Linked DNA regions of Homo sapiens: region 2 is linked to region 1. Evidence: fine-mapped expression QTL. A gene starts in region 1. The other region holds a variant in brackets. All regions are shown on one strand. Distances are from middle to middle.

Region 1 (2,500 bases):
ATCAGCAGCCTGGGGGCACCAGTGACAGCAGAACCGGGGCTTACCTTGTTGGAGGCCATCTCACTGACGGAGTGCCTGGTCTGTAGGGTCTCTAGCTGGTCCAGACACCAGTCCAGCTCCTCCAGGGTCTCGCTGGCCAGTTTCTGGTAGGCCTCCTCTGCGAAGAGACAGGGAAAGGGGGACTCAGTTCTCAAGCGCTTCACGGGTCCGCTAGCGAGTTCAAAGGGGGCCATCCTGCCATACCCCGCCATGCTCGGATGCCCGGTGCCGGCACATGAGGGCTGCTCCTTCATATTGCCCAGCCCGGCAGTGCAACGGGGGCGGAGGCTGTGCTCGCGGGGCGGCCGGCCTCGGGGAGGCACGGTCTCTCCAGCTTGGCGTCTCGGGTCGGCCTCCAGGGAGGGCGTGCAAAGAGCGGCGAGCCAACTTTCACACAGCGACGCGAGCGGAAAAACCACTATGCGACTTTTCAACTGTGCGGCGGGCCCGAGTCCCAGTCCAGGAGCCCGGCTCTAGCGGATGGCGAGGGGGTGGCGAGCGCGCTTGGGTGCCCGCCCCGCAGAGGAGCGTCTGGTCCACAGCCGGATCTCCTCGGTCCCCAACCCGGAGCCGCGGCCCCACGCCCGCCCCGCCTGCCGAGCCTTCTGCACGGCACTTGAAGTGAATGAATCAGCCGCGGCCGGGTGCGCGGCCACCACGTTTCCTGTTTTCTTTCTCAACTCCTCGGGCGGCAGGCGCAGCGCGGCTCCAACGCCGCAGCTTTCCGGGAACACTCCCCCTCACGCCCCTCTCGGCCCTCGGCGCTGCCTGGCTCCTCCTCAACCCCCTTACGAAAAGATTCCGAATTGCAAAAGCCTGTCCCTGTCCGTGCCACCCGCCGCGTCCTTCCCCTCGAGCTCTGCCCCGGGGGCCCCGCCACCTCGCAGTGCCATCCCCCCGGCGCAGCCGGGCGCCACTCGCTTTGAAGTGCAGACGAGGAGGCGCGGGCGCGAGCGTGTGTGTCTGTGGGGCTGCTGTGGGACTGTCTGTGCTAGGAGAGCGGCGGAAAACCCGGCGTGGAGCGCCTGCAGTCCGCCGTCCGGGGTCGCGCCCGCCGCGGGGCTCAGGAGGGACCGGCACGCAGGCGCGCACGGCCGCGCACCTGTCTCGCTAGAACCCCGCGCGCCCCGCCGAGCCACTGCCCTCCAGGTTGCCCAGACCGCTGGAGCCTCTGCGACTCCACGACCGGCTGCTTCCTGCGAAGTTTCACAAACAAGGTTATTTAGGACCCTCAAGGTTTCTGAGGGTTTAAGTTTTAGGGTTTCTGGGGGTTCGTTTCTAAAGGCTTAGGATTCACCTACTTCAAGGAGGCAGGGTTGTGGGAATTAAGACCGCATTCTTTTTCTACCCAGCCCAGTCCCTACTAAGTACCAGACTTCTAAATGTTGGGGCGGACAGAAACAAGCAAACAAAATATACAATGTTGTGGGGTCGGAACGCTTTATAATTCACAAATTTGACAATAGGCTGCATTTTCATATGCCGAATTGCCTAAGAGTTCTCTTAAAGGAACAGCAATGTGAAAGAACCACATGGTAAGGAGAATTTACGCATGTCCTGCATACTACTCCTTTCCCCTGTGAATTGCATAAGACCTAGATGATCTTGGGCCAAGGAAGAAAATCTGGAAGGGTGTTTCTACCCACCATGTGCAGAGTACACTACAATTTTGAGAAAACGGAAAGACCATATTCAAAGGCATACAGAAAAGCCTGTTCTGTTTACAAAGGCTGACCCAGGGCACCAGGGACACTGTCCCTAAGCAGATCAGTTGTGGGAGAACTTTTCTACATTAGCATGCAATAAGCAAACCATTCATAGTGAGGAGAAGTCAAACTCCCAAGGGTCCATTTGATAAAACTTTGTCATTGTCGAGTGGAAAGAAGATACTGAGAAACTTACACTAAGTGGTGGGATCCCTTGTCTTTGTCTTTGAATCTACAGGTATTGGAGAAGAAATTCTGCCCTTGAAATTTAGACTCCATAAATTAACATGGCACAACAAATAAAGTTCATGGACTGAATTTAGGCTCCTGGGATTTTTGAGATAGCTTTTTATGTGAACTTTGTAAAAGTTAGAGTAACTTTTAAAGTAGTTGTTACATGTGCCACGTGGCTTATTGTTATCAAGAATACTTGAACTATTTACTGTTCACTTTGAGTACTCTAGGTTAAAATTTGCCTCTTTTTTGTTCTACTTCCTCCACCCCGCAGTCTATGTAAATATATACTTTAGATGGACAAACAACTGCCTAAACCTTGCCAGGTGAATTAAAGTTTCAGATTGAAGCTTTTTTTTCCCCCTTAACAAGCTTAAAGATATTAATAATTTTAAATGGTAAATATAAAATACCTGCTCTGTATAGCTTCCCCAATTCTAAGAATGTAAAAAATATTACATGCTTGTTATAAAAATTGAAGCATTACACACAAATATAGGAAGTCCATTGTAACCCCACAC
Region 2 (2,500 bases), 75 kb after region 1:
CTCAGTTTCCACAACTATGAAATAAGAACAATAATGTATCCAATCTCACAGATTTGTGGTGAGGATTATGCAAAGTCCTTAAAGAGTGTGGCACATAGTAAGCTGTCCATAAATGGCATTACATATTGAGATATTGAGTGTAACTAGGCCACTGTTACTGCTACTACCATACACTAGAAAATTCTCTCCTCCCTTTCCAAGAGCTAATTTTTATCACTGATATTATATACCCTTTTGGGGGTCATTTTCAATAGTCATTTCTTAAGAAAAAAGCAACAAGAGAAATAAAGTTGCAAAGATGATGTAAATGTTTAACATTATTAGTTAAATAACTGCTAGAACATGAGCAACTACAAAAATAATTTTGAAGTATACTTTGATGCAGAAAAATTTTTTTTTTGTTAAATGGGAAAAATGTGTTATAGCAGTAAGTCACCAAATATGATCCCTTTAAATATATACAAGTATACAAACATTTGGAAGGATTTAAAGTATATATTAATGGTGGCAATCCTTACATGGATAAATTTATAGAGTTTTGATGCTTTTATGACGTATTTTTATTTTATTTTCTGAACATGATAGCTGGGTAGTGTCACCAACTGAGATATATAAGGAGGCACAAATTTAGAGGAAAAGCTAAATTTGGTTTTGGATATGAAGAATTTTATAAACCCATGGGATACTCAGTTGGGAATTTCCAATAAATATTGGGGTTCCAAGCTTTGCAGAAGAGGTTAAGATGGATTTCTATATAAATTTAGGGGCTTTCAGCAAACAGGTGGTAATTAAAATAAGAATGCACAAGTCAGTCTTGGAAGACACACAGAGTGAGGAAAGCAGGAATGGAGAATGGGATCCTGGGAACCCCAGGTCAAAGGAAGGGTGGGGGGAAAGGAAAAGAAAGAGTGTACGACCTCATGCAAAGATGGAAAGGTTTTTGAGAGGGATACACTGGCAATTGACTTAGAGAAACTTGATGAGAAATGAACTGAAAAATATCTACTTGGTTTGGCAATTGGGAGAGCAGAGGAACTACAGCAGTAGTTGCAACAGAGTGGTGGGGCTGCAAGCTAACTTCAAGGGGGTAGAGGAATAAGTGGGGGGAAAAGAAAAAGAAAATGATAAGTGTAAACTTTCTAGAAGTTTGGGTGCGAAAATCAATAGAGATATGTGGTAATAACTGATGGAAGATACAGGATCAAAGAGGAAGGGAATTTTTTCCTTAGGAACTTCAACCAGTTTTGAAGGAGATGCAGCCATCAAAGAGTAGGTCAAAGAAAGAGGGAGAAGGGGCGATAGATGGAGCAATGTCCAGGAGGAGACATTGAAGGGGATGGGGATTAAATTTGGGGGTAGTCTTACTTTTAAGTGCACTAAACAGAAATCTTACCATAATATAGAAGAGCAATACAGATTGAGCAAAATATAATTTTGTATTTTTTGATGATTTGGGGTCATCAGTTTGAACACCAAAAATTATACTCAGTTGTCCAGACAGGATGCGCTCAGTGTTTCCAAAGATG[G/A]GTTGAGCTTATTGCCCCTTTCAAAAAGGCCCCAAATAGCTATGTCTGTGGTTTTCAAATGATTTTGTAGATTTTCTTTTTCTGTTGTTGTTTTCAGGCCATCAGCTGACATTTGGCTAATATCAGTTGTGACTTTCCCTGAAATCTCCTACCCAGCCTTTCTTAATTTGCTTCATCCAATTATAGAAGGTTTAGAACCACATGACCAAGCTTGTATGAATCATCACTAAAATATGAACATACATTTCTCTGGCTAATGACCTACATTATCTTCAGTGAGTGAACATTGTGAACATCTATTTTGAGTGCTTAGAGACCTCCTTTGCTTCCTTCCTTATGCTGATCTATGTTCTAGAAGAAAGGGGACACTATTAGGGTTGCAGGCTAAGTTCTTAATAGTTAGGATGTATATTGTTATTAATAATTGAGGTATAATAGATATCATGCTTATCAACACATAATGTACATATAGAGAAAAGGTTAATGGACCACTCTGAGCTTACTTATCAAAGTCTACTGCTCTTCCACAAAACCTACATGGTTTGTTGAACAATTTCTTCAGTCTTCTGCAAGCCATAATCTATGATTACATAAATAATTAATAATAGTTTTAAAATAACTTTGCAATGATTTTGGTTGTTTAGATCCCCAACAATGTAAATCTCACAATCTTCTGGCAGATTTATAATTATTAATGGAAAACACATTTCTTATCTCAGTCGATGAATTAGCGTTTGCTGTAGTCCTAATAAATATATATAGTAAATATAATATACAGCCAAAAAATGTGTAAACGTACAGGAAATAAAATGGGAATCTTTGTCCAAATTCATTAGCAACCTGTTTTCAGCATATATAGTACTGAACCACATTATAATGTTTTTTGAGCACATATATTCAAGAAATTAAAATTGTATAAAGCATACAATTCCCCATTATATAATCAGAGTAAACAAGAAGGAATGATTTCCAGG

The links. PIP is the estimated chance that this variant, and not a neighbour inherited with it, causes the effect.
Region 2: its variant is fine-mapped to the expression of PDE4D-AS1 in whole blood (TOPMed, PIP above 0.99).

Annotation. Positions count from the first base shown.
Region 1 is chr5:59,038,815-59,041,314 of GRCh38, forward strand. PDE4D-AS1 (PDE4D antisense RNA 1) reads left to right here and starts at 952. Exons shown (of 2, transcript NR_198970.1): 1 at 952-1,256. PDE4D (phosphodiesterase 4D) reads right to left here. Exons shown (of 15, transcript NM_001104631.2): 6 at 45-157. RefSeq lists a silencer at 321-390.
Region 2 is chr5:59,113,782-59,116,281 of GRCh38, forward strand. The region is part of intron 5 of PDE4D (phosphodiesterase 4D); the gene reads right to left. Among named protein-coding and RNA genes, the nearest start is that of PDE4D-AS1, 75 kb to the left of the region's middle. The variant G/A (reference allele first, on the strand shown) is at 1,527.